Linked DNA regions of Homo sapiens. The protein of the gene in region 1 interacts with the protein of each later gene in a pairwise test. Each region holds a gene or a part of one and is shown in the gene's direction. Other genes may lie near its edges.

Region 1 (4,424 bases):
GCACCTGTATGGTCATCACAGCACTATTCACAATAGCAAAGACGTGGAATCAACCTAGGTGATCATCAGTGGTGGATTGGATAAAGAAAATGTGGTAGGCATTCACCACAGAATGCTATGCAGCCATAAAAAAAGAATGAAATCATGTCCTTTGCAGCAACATGGATGCAGCTAGAGGCTGTTATCCTAAGTGAATTAATGCAGGAACATAAAACCAAATGCCACACATTCTCATTTATAAGTGGGAGCTAAACATCGGGTACTCGTGCGCATAAAGATGGGAACAACAAACAATGGGAACTACAAGAGGGGTCAGGGAAGGAGGGGTCAAGGGTTTAAAAACTAACTATTGTGTACTATGTTCAGTACTTGGATGACAGGGTCATTCGTACCCCAAACCTCAACATCACACACTATACCCAGGCAACAAACCTGCACATGTACCCCCTAAATCTAAAATGAAAGTTGAAAACATAAAATTTCTCAGGAACTACATGTGTGTGTATATATATATACATACATACACACACACATATATACACACACATTGCACATAATGGGCTAGCTTTCTCTTTTGTCTCTCTCTCTATATATACACACACACATATATATACATATATATATACTGCACATAACATTGGGCAAACTACTTGAACAGACACTTTACAAAGAAAGATATAGAAATGGCCAGTGAGCACATAAAAGCATACTCAACATAATTAGTCATCAGGGAGATGATAATTGAAATAACAATGAGATGCCACTTCCCACCCTTTCAAATGGCTAAAAATAAAGGCTGACAACCTCAAATGTTGATGAGGATGGGAAAGAAAAGGAGCTCGCATACATTTCTGGTGGGAATGTAAATTGCACAACCACTTTGGAATACATTCTGGCAGTTTCTTATAAAACATAAAACTATCCTGTGATGTGGCAATTCATCTCTTAGGTATTTGCCCAAGAAAAATGAAAGCATATGTCCACACAAAGATGTGTACATGAATATTCATAGTAGCTTTATTTATAATCGCCCAAACTGGAAACAGCCCAGATCATAACCTGGTGAATGAACAAACCAACTCTGATATATCCAAACAATAGCATACTACTCAGCGATAGCACATTCAACAACATAGATAAATCTTGAAAACATCACGTTGAATGAAAGAATCCAGACACACAATAGTACATACGATCTGATTCCATTCATACAGAATACTGGCTTTCCAGTCTTCGCCCTCAGTTCCCGACCCTTCACTCCCCCCACCACCATCTTGAAGATGCCCAAGGGGGAGAGGTCCCTTCCATTCCTTCGTTCCTTCCTTCGTCTGCTGGTCGATTTGTTCGCTCGTTCATTCATTCATTCGCACGCTCATTCCACTCCTCCCCACCTCCACCCAAGCGTCCAGCCCGCGCGCGCCGCTCCCCCGCAGGCTGATCAGACTTGCCTGCCCAGTCCGCCCCCGCCCAAACCCCGCCCCCTTCCCGCCACGCCCCCTTCCCGGGCCAATCGGGGACGAGACTGGGGCCGGGGCGGGGCCTCGCTCCCTCAGAACCCCCGGCGGCGCTCACGGCTCCGGAAACGCGCCGCGGGGCTGTTAGCTCGGCTGGGCACGGGCGGCTCCGTGGCGCTTCCTGCCACGCCAGGCCTGCCTGGGCCGCGCCAGCGCCGCTCCACCGAGGGCCGCGCGTCGGCCGCCGCCGGGCCTGGGTGAGTGTGCGGGCCGCGGGAGGATGTGCGGGGGGCGCTGGAGGGGCCGCAGGGCGGAGGTGATCGTGGGGGCGGCAGGAGGACGTGTGGACCTGAGTGAGCGTGCAGGGCCGCGAGAGGATGTGCAGGGGGTGCAGGACTGTGTGCGGGGCTGGAGCGAGTGTGCGGGCCGCAGAAGAGTGCACGGTGGAGGGAGGGGGCGTCTCTGGGCAGTTGGAGAGCTGCTCGGCCTTGGGCGGGCCAGAGCAGGGAACGGGTCCCGGATGACGAGTACGAAGAGGCCCGAAGGCCTTCCCGAGGCGGGCGGGGGGCGGCGATCCCGGGTGGGAATCGCTAAAGTGTAGAGGCCTGCTCTGCTCTTTGGGGGACGCTAGGAGATGGGAACCGCTCAGGGGCGGAGAGAAAGGACCCCTGCCCCTAGCTCCTAGGAGCCCGATCTGGAGGGGGCATTGTAGGGGTGGGGGTTAAAGGACTTTTCCCTGGTCTAGGGGAGGGACTGAGCCGCAGTCTGGGAGCTGGGAGGGTGGGCCAGGTGGGAACAGTTCCCGCTGGGGAGTCCCTCCTTTCCTTTTGAGTGGGTGGGAGTGGGGGGGGGCGGTTAAGCCTCAGCTTGGTGGGGAGAATGGGGGCCGGTAGGTAGCCTAGAGAGAGAGCTGTGGAGAGGCAGGGGAAAGGGGGCGGTGAGCCGAGCTCAAGGCCCTCTGTCTGAACCAGTCTTTTTCTGTCGCCCTACTGGGGGCCGCCATCTCCCACTTCAGTGCCCCCGCCCCCTTAAACTCCTTTGCTGGCTCCTCCAGTCTATATTTGGGTGATTAATTATATATCTTTTCCACACACACCCCCCACTCGCCTGCCGCCCAAAGTCCATGGTCCCTTTCAAACAACCCCCTGCCCCCATTCCTGGCCCACTTCCCAGAGGTCCCACCCTGCCACCTTGTTCCAACTGAAGCCCTCCAGCCAGCCTTGACCTAGCTGGGCATGCGGCCCCCTCCAGTCTCCTTAGTCAATGAAACATTTCCTCTTCAACCTCAGCCCGACATTTTTCCTTTACAAGAGAATTTCAGATGGGATTGCTGGAACAGCACCTCCCCTAGGTACTAATGCTGCCTCAGCCCCTCCCCACCCTCACCTTCCCCCAACCCTGCAACATTGGACCTTCAAGTAGAAGCCACTTGCACAGTATCTGGCCCAGTTCAGTACATCCCCACAAAATGTTACTAGGGGGATGTACTGAACTGGGTCAGACACTGAGTTTTATATATAGAACCCTATTGAGCAGTAATTTGCAGCCTTCTGTCTGTGAGGGACCCCTTGGAAATCTACCAGAACTTGTGAATTCTCTTCTAACCATCAGCACAGACTCAGAGATAGTGGGCTCCCATTTCAGCAGGTTCCTGGGCAGGAATCCTGTCAGTAACAGAGATTCTGAGAGTTGGAGAATCTGGGAACCTCCAGATTCTAGACAGGCCCAGTGTTAAGGAGGTGCAGCTCTGCATCATAATCTCCTGGGGTGCTTGTTGAAAAATGCAGACTCCTTGGTCTCTCCCAAACCTGCGAAACTCCCACATGAGTTCTTAGTGAACTCCACACCAACTTTCTCACCCAGTGATCCAGCCCTTACCCAAACCTGCCTGGGCTCCTTGGATGGCCCTGGGCTCTTTGCAATTTGCATAGCATCCCACCCCACCCCCAATTTCGACCTTTGTATCCAGGCGATGTTACCTAAAGGAAGCTATACTTAAAATTTATTTCGATTTTTAGTAAGATGCCATGAATCTTCTTGGAGAAATGGGAACACAAAGCTTTCCTCAATTAAGTACAACAAACACTACAAAATCCCCTTCTGGTCTACCTTCTGGCTTTTTATAGAAAGGAAATAAGATAGAAACCCAAACAGAAAGAGACAGGTGCCCAGGCAAAGTGAGAGGAAACAGATGCCTTCCCACCCACACATACAGAAAAAGGCACACACAGACACAAATACCCCAAGAGAGACAGACTTTCCTGGTGAGACACCCTCTCTTTAGGCCCTTCAGGATTCTGCTACTTCGAGTAGCAGCCTGTTTGCTGCTTTGGGACGGGACGGGATGGGCCCACGTGGGGCCTTCACTTCCGCCTCCTGGCCTGTCAGGTGGAAAGAACATGAAGGCCAGGCTCAGCGTGGCCCAGGGCTTGGCTCAAGGGTTGCATCCTGGCCTGGCTAGGGTGGATCCAGATCGTGGCAGTATATATTCAGTTGAACCCTGTATCTGGCCCAGTTCAGTACATCCCCCAAAATGTGGGGGACATGTTCCTGGGAGGTGCACACAGGTCTGCTTCTGTTCACCTGAATTATTGCAATCCAACAGATGGGGCCTTACCTGCCAGGCTGATCCCTTGGAGTAGTTCTGAGGCATGATGAGTCATCCGTGTGTGTCTCTTTTGGGTAAGTCTGGGTGTTTATGCATGGTGTCTGCTGGCTTTGACGCTGGGCATGCTATCAGAAGACCCTATAGGTGGGGTTACAACATGGTGAGGAGTATCGTTTTGGTTCCGGAAGCACTTATATTTTCATCTGTGCCACTGTTGCTGAACTGTCTTTGCCCAGAGACAGTTCTCTCAATCCAAGCAATACAACTCACAGGAGAAAAGATATTCAGGAAAGAGAATCTGGAGTCTAATCTCCCTTTTGGATGGGAGAGGGAGCTGAAGGCATCCATCTGAATTGGATCTT
Region 2 (3,647 bases), on another chromosome or scaffold:
AGGTTCTGGTCTCTCAGATCTACTGGTCAGTTTGATCAGTGGATTTATCTCACACTGTCCTCAGTGTTGTCAGCCACAAAATAACTGCTTTGGACTTGATAGCTCTTGCTAATCATTCTCTACTTATTTTTGATTTTAATAAGTCCAAGTGCCAGTTTATGAATTTACACTGAGACATATACTTGAGTTTGGAATTCTGCCTCTGAGCAGATCTGTTTGGGAGGCCTCTAATGCTAGTCACTGAGGATAAGGGGCATCTGTAGATGGATCGTGTGTTCAGGGTGACCCTAGGCTGCACCTGCAGGAGAGTATAAAATGGATAAATGTATTCATTCTGGAAGCGGGGTAACCTTCCTTACCAGTTCCGCCAGGACCTGTCGAATAGTTTGAGTGCACTGCTTTAGCTCCAGTAGCTCTGTACCTGTAATATAGGAATCCCTGGATACCAGGATCCAGAGGTAGCCGTCAGAACATCAGGGAACCCTCTAAACTTTGTGCCTGTGGTCCCAGCTACTGGGAAGGCTGAGCAAGGAGGATCACTTGAACTCAGGAGTTCAAGGCAAGCCTGGGCAACATAGTGAGACCCTGTCTTCTTCAAAAAAGAAAAAAAGACTGGAAACTTTGCATACAGGTGTGCACATTCTTCCAACTTTCGAAGGAATTCAAAGCCCCTGAAAAATGAAGGGAAATGAAAAATGCGGTAAGATGCAGTGAGAGACTTTGTTCATCTCATTTGATTAGTTTCCCTCAAAATGAACTTTCATTTTTGGCATTGCATAGCCTAGAAAAGGCATCACTGCTGTGTCCCGAGGTGTGAGTGTCTTTGATTTTTACTGGATAAATGCCAGACTTTTCTAAAGAGGGAGCAGTTCACATTCATGCCAGTGTTTGAGGTTCTCCACATCCTCATGGCCACTTTTAATTTTAGCCATTCTGATGCTTGTCCAGTGGTGTCTCATTGTGGTTTTAATTTGTGCTTTTTTATTACAAATGGGATCAAACACCTTTTCATGTTTATTTTTCTCTTTTGTGAAGTGCCTGTTTAAAACTTCTTTGTTTTATAGCTTTTATTTATTTATTTATTTATTTATTTATTTATTTATTTATTTTGAGACAGAGTCTTGCACTGTTACCCAGGCTGGAGTGCAGTGGCGTGATCTTGGCTCACTGTAAGCTCTGCCTCCTGGGTTCACGCCATTCTCCTGCCTCAGCCTCCAGAGTAGCTGGGACTACAGGCAGCCGCCACCATGCCCGGCTCATTTTTTGTATTTTTTTTTTTTTTTTTTTTTGAGACAGAGTCTCACTCTGTCACCCAGGCTGGAGTGCAGTGGCACGATCTCAGTTCACTCAGTTCACCTCCGCCTCCCGGGTTCAAGCAATTCTCCTGCCTCAGCCTATTGAGTAGCTGGGACTACAGGCACGCACCACCATGCCAGGCTAATTTTTTATATTTTTAGTAGAGATGGGGTTTCACCATGTTGCCCAGGCTGTTCTTGAACTCCTGACCTCAGGTGATCCACTCGCCTTGGCCTCCCAAAGTGCTGGGATTATAAGCATGAGCCGCTGCACCTGGCTGTTACATAGCTTTTTTTTATGCAACTTTCGTATATAAACTTTTTTCATCATAAATAGGACTTTTCACTTTAGTACCTAGCTCATCCCAGTAGCTTTTCCAGAACTGCTGTCTTCACCACAAAGCTCCCTACGTTTTCCCAATGCAAACCTGAGTGTTTTTAGCATTTTAACTTTCCTCACAGAGAAGACATCGTGGAGCGGATAAATAGATTTGCAGGCATTTCTGTGTCTTCTCCAGTGCTGTCTGGAATAATTTTCTCCACCACTTCTTTCAAGTTATTTGTCTGCATCTCTCTTTTTTTTTTTTTTTGAGATGGAGTCTCGCTCTGTTGCCCAAGCTGGAGTACAGTGGTGCGATCTTGGCTCACTGCCAGCTCCGCCTCCTGGGTTCACACCATTCTCCTGCCTCAGCCTCCAGAGTAGCTGGGACTACAGGTGCCCGCCACCACACCCGGCTAATTTTTTGTATTTTTAGTAGAGACGGGGTTTCACCATGTTAGCCAGGATGGTCTCGATCTCCTGACCTCGTGATCCGCCCGCCTCGGCCTCCCAAAGTGCTGGGATTATAGGTGTGAGCCACCGCGCCCGGCCTTGGGTCATGATTTCCATCATCTTAGACCTGTTGGTGCTGAGGTTTTCTTTAACCATTGGTAGTCTAGACATCAACATGAGCTTCAATCATGGTCTGCCTTTTTTTTTTTTTTTTTTTTTTTTTTTTTTGAGACGGTTTCTCACTGTCACTCAGGCTAGAATGCAGTAGCGTGATCTCAGCTCACTGCAGCCTCTGCCTCCTGGGTAGCTGGGACTATAGGCATGCACCACCACGCCCAGCTAATTTTTGTATTTTTTGTAGAGACAGGATTTTGCCATGTTGTCCAGGCTGGTCTCGAACTCCTGACCTCAAGTGATCCACCCGGGTGGTCTGCCATTTTTAAATCACACAACACATTTTGTCATGGGTAAGACCCACGCATGGAAGCTAGGCAGTTTTTGCCCTGAACATCTTGAACAGTCAGCTTGAGTTTTCTGCAAGTCAGCAAGCCTTCAAACATAACCCTTGAGGCCATCAGATACAGTTTTGGTTCCTTGAGTCCTATAAACTTTTTAAATCGTTGAAAAAATTGAACTAGAACAAAGCAAACCATTTGTTGTTTTCTTTTTCCCCCCTGAGACAGAGTCTCGCTCTGTCGCCCACGCTGGAGTGCAGTGGCACAGTCTTGGCTCACTGCAACCTCCATCTCCAGGGTGCCAGCGATTCCCATGTCTCAGCCTCCTGAGTAGCTGGGATTACAGGTACACACCACCACGGCCAGCTAATTTTTGTATTTTTAGGAGAGACGGTTTTGCCATGTTGACCAGGCTGGTCTTGAACTCCTGGCCTCAAGTGATATACCTGACTCAGCCTCCCAAAGTGCTAGGATTACAGACGTGAGCCACCATGTCCGGCCTCCTTGGTTGCTTTTTAACAGCAAATAATCTTTTTTTTTTTTCCAAGTTGTGTGCTTTCTCCAAATTTGTTTTTTTTCTTCTTCTTCTTCTTTTTTTTTCCCTTGAAACAGGGTCTCACTTTGTTACCCAGGCTGGAGTGCAGTGGTGCCATCACGGCTCACTGCAGCCTGTACCTTCTGGGCTCAATTGAGCTTCCTGCCTCAGCCTCCTAAGTAGCTGGGACTATAGGGGTATGTCACCATCCCTGGCTGATTTTTTATATTTTTTTGGAGAGACAAGGTCTTACCGTATTGCCCAGGGTGGTCTCAAACTCCTGGGCTCAAGTGATCCTCCCACCTTGGTTTCCCAAAGTGCTGGGATTGTAGTTGTGAGCCACTGAGCCTGACCTTGGGTCACTTTTCATGAGCATTTTCAGTATGCCAGTCTCTGCTCTGGCTAGAAGCAATGCAGTGGTAGAAAAGAGACTGGCAACTCTCTTTAAGGAATCGAGATTCTTTAAGGGGAAGGTTATTGAAAATGTTACTTAGGCTGTTTTTCTTAAATTTCCAAAGATTGTCTCTTAGTAAGGTTGATTTTTCTGGAATCTTTTTTTGGTCTGTTTCTATAATGTATGAATAAGTCAC
Region 3 (3,647 bases), on another chromosome or scaffold:
GGCGGAGCTTGCAGTGAGCCAAGATCTCACCAATGCACTCCAGCGAGACTCCGTCTCTCAAAAAAAGAAAAAAAGAAGAAAGAATAAATGGACTTCTACCACCCAGTCCCCCATCTTGGGAGGCTCTGTCTTCAGAGCCTCTTCCTATCCTGTGATGAATATCTAGTGAGAGAAGGACAGGGGGAGAGAACAAAGAGCTTTGCCACCAGCTCCTCCTATCCCCTGTCCCTGGGGTCTGCCTTGCTCCCTAGGCTCTTCAGGGGCTTAGTTCAGAGATACCCTAGGCTAAAAGGAAAGAGGAGGAACCAGTCCTTGCACAGCTGCTGGTAGCTTGATTCCACTGCCCCTTCACACTCTGGAAAGGGAGTCCCAGGAAAATCCATACTGGAGACAGGGTAGTTGTAGGCCAGGATCACTGCACCTGGGGCTGGGTAGGCTGCAGTGGGAGAGAAAGCAGGCAGGAGCAGGCCAGAGAGGGCTTCTCTCATTGCCCACCTTCTGTCCTGCAGGTTGGAAGTACTCCATGACACACACTCGGAGAAAGTCCCTTCCCATGCTGAGTTCGGGCCTCACTGGCCGCCGAGAGCCCCTGCAGATGGAAGACAGCAACATGGAGCAGGGGGTTGAGGGTGTGGAGCCAGGCATGCCCGAGAGCCCAGGTCACCTCACAGGGCGCCGCAAGAATTACCCACTTCGTAAGCGCCCATTGGTTCCTGAGAAGCCCAAGGCCTGCAAAGTGCTGCTGACTCGCCTGGAGAATGTGGCCGGTCCCCGGAGTGCAGATGAGGCTGATGAGCTACCGCCTGACCTGCCCAAGCCCCCCAGCCCGGCCCCATCCAGTGAAGACCCTGGCCTTGCCCAGCCCCGCAAGCGGCGCCTGGCCTCCCTCAATGCTGAAGCTCTCAATAACCTGCTGCTGGAGCGAGAGGACACCAGCAGCCTGGCAGGCACCCGCCGCAGTCGAGCAGGGGATCCCCACCGCAGCCGTGACCGTGATCGTGCTACTGGGGGCTGGTCCTCCTCCAAGAAGCGGCCCCGGCTGGGGGACCTTGGAGGAGGAAGTCGGGACCTGTCTCCAGAGCCAGCACCCGATGAAGGTCCCCGCCGAGATGGAGACCCAGCTCCCAAGAGACTGGCTAGCCTGAACGCAGCTGCTTTCCTAAAACTGAGCCAGGAGCGGGAGCTACCCCTGCGGCTGCCTCGTGCCCATGCAGAAGTAGATGGGCGCTCCACTGAGCCCCCAGCACCCAAGGCCCCGAGGCCAAAGTGGCCCAAGGTCAATGGCAAGAACTATCCCAAGGCTTGGCAGGGGGCCAGCTCTGGGGAGGCTGCAGGCCCACCTGGCTGGCAAGGCTGCCCTGATGAACCATGGCCATCTGCAACTCCTTGTGGGCCATCCGTCCAGCCATCTCATCAGCCCCTGAGCAAGGCTCTGGAGAGCCCTTTGGGGCTGCGCCCTCACCTGCCCCTGCTGATGGGTGGACAGGCGGCTCTGAAGCCGGAGCCTGGGCGCCCAGGCGAGGAGTCACCTGCCCCTAAGCAGGAACTGCATCAGCCCTCTTTCCCCACACCTCAGCTGTCGCCGCTGCCGATGCCTGGCAACCCCGCCGACTACAATGGCCTGTGTGTTGGGCCTGAGCTCACTGCACTAGGCAGCTTCTACCTGTACTGTGGCCAAGAGGGGCTGCAGTGTGGGGGCTACTCGCCCTGCCCCATGCTTCCTGAGGGCAAGCTGTCCCCAGTGGCTGCACCTCACGAGGAGGGGCTCCTCTTAGCTCCGAGCTCAGTGCCCTCAGGCACCCCTTTCCAGCACCCTCCCTGGGGCTCCTCTCGCTACTGCTCTAGCGAGGACACTGGAGTGAATGGCTACAGCATCTGCGGAGTGTTGCCCCTGTCTGTTACCCACGCTGGCACTACCTGTGGCGGCTGCCCATACAAAATGCCTTTTGCAGCAGGTGAGGCTTCCTGGGCCCAAGATGTACTGGGGAGTCTCGGAGACATGGCATCCCAGGAGGTTGGGCTGTTGATCTGAGCAGGGGTCTCCCTTGGGGTCTGGCTGCTAACTGGAAGGTAGGGGGCTTTCAGAAGTGAGAACTCCCGTAGTCTGTGCCCCAAGCCGAGGAGCATTCCCAAGAACAGGGCCCGTATAGCTCTGGACAGCCTTGCTCTGCCCAGGCTACCTTTGGAGATTCTTGGCCTGGCAGTTAGGTAGCATTGCAGTGGTACAGGCCACAGGAAGGCCTCTCTTCTCTCCTCATTGGGATACCCGTTCTTAGACTCTGAAGAGCAGGTTAGATATTGGAATTAGGACTTTTACCAAATTGTTCTCACGGCCCTTCTACCCTCCTTGAGGAAAGCTAGAATTCCCTAGTTTCTAGAAACCAGTACTCTCTGCATGCTGGCCAAGTTCAGCATTCATGGGAAAGGTGGTAGGTACCAGGCTCAGTAGGTGGTACCTACTGCACAGGGCAGCTTTGCCCTGGCTATAGAGGCATTGAAAGAGAAGTGCCCAGACTGAGCATCACTTTGCTGGGTGTGGATAGAGAGGGTGCACCATGAGAACAGACAAGCAGAGTTCCCTGACATGGATGGAATGCGATCAGGGCCCACAGCTTTGGTGTCTGCCTGCCTGACAAGACCCAGACACCTGAGAGGCCCATGCTCCGGCTGTTGAGACACTCCCAGAATCATTTCTCTTCCCTAAACTGGCAGAGGTATCCTCACCTGCCTCTTCAGGCTCCCTGCCTGCCTCCTGGGTGGAAATGAGACATGCTGGCCAGCAGGTCTGCCCTGCTGCTGGGGAGGTGAGGGCTGGACCTTCCAGATCTCCCTTCCCCTGACATCCTTTCTTGTAGGGGTCTATAAAACAACTTTATAGACCAGTTGGCCCTGGCCAGACTGGTTGTTTCAGGTTGTGGCTTGAGTTAGAGTTCTTATGACATGAGAACAGGCTGCTGCTTGGGGTTTTCCTTCTTTTTTTGTGCCATTCCCCAAGTCTAGACCCTTATCCCCTCTCCCTAATAATAAGGACACCAGTAAACACCATGTACCAGGCACTGTTCTGAGTGCTTTACATATGGGAGGCTGCTTGGCATGTAATTGAGCACAGACTCCGAAGCCAGACTGCCTGGAGTGAAATGTTCTCCCCCACTTTCCTAGCCATGTGACTATGGGCGAGTCAGTAACTGCTCTGTGTCTCAGTTTTCTTAACTATAAAATGGGTGTAATGATACCTATCTCACAGGGTTTTTGTAAGGATGAAATGAGTTAATGTGTTCGTAAGAAAACCAGCCAGTTGCTCTGAGGGGCAGAGTGACTTGCCTGAAGTCACATGGCTAGTAAGTGGCAGAACCCAGGCTGATTCTAGAACCCCTATTCCCAAGCATTATGAAAGCCTTAGAAAATTAATATCAGGGCCAGGCGCGGTGGCTCATGCCTGTAATCCTAGCACTTTGGGAGGCTGAGGCGGGCAGATTGCCTGAGCTCAGTAGGTTGAGACCAGCCTGTCTAACATGGTGAAACCCTATCTCTACTAAACATACAAAAAAATTAGCTGGGTGTGGTGATGGGCACCTGTAATCCCAGCTACTCAGGAGGCTGAGGCAGGAGAAATGCTTGAACCCGAGAGGCGGAGGTTGCAGTGAGCC

What was found.
Region 2: the proteins of ZNF275 (region 1) and RNF4 interact in binary tests that used the Homo sapiens proteins (3 or more experiments, as listed by UniProt).
Region 3: the proteins of ZNF275 (region 1) and BAHD1 interact in binary tests that used the Homo sapiens proteins (3 or more experiments, as listed by UniProt).

The regions. Positions count from the first base shown.
Region 1 is NC_000023.11:153,332,575-153,336,998, forward strand, and holds the start of ZNF275 (zinc finger protein 275), read left to right. Parts: upstream 1-1,578; 5' UTR 1,579-1,711; intron 1,712-2,887; exon of another isoform or gene 2,888-2,963; intron 2,964-4,059; 5' UTR 4,060-4,105; coding exon 4,106-4,136; intron 4,137-4,424. UniProt on the Homo sapiens protein: May be involved in transcriptional regulation.
Region 2 is NC_000004.12:2,503,459-2,507,105, forward strand, and holds part of RNF4 (E3 ubiquitin-protein ligase RNF4), read left to right. Parts: intron 1-3,647. UniProt on the Homo sapiens protein: E3 ubiquitin-protein ligase which binds polysumoylated chains covalently attached to proteins and mediates 'Lys-6'-, 'Lys-11'-, 'Lys-48'- and 'Lys-63'-linked polyubiquitination of those substrates and their subsequent targeting to the proteasome for degradation.
Region 3 is NC_000015.10:40,457,942-40,461,588, forward strand, and holds part of BAHD1 (bromo adjacent homology domain-containing 1 protein), read left to right. Parts: intron 1-509; coding exon of another isoform or gene 510-523; coding exon 524-1,955; intron 1,956-3,647.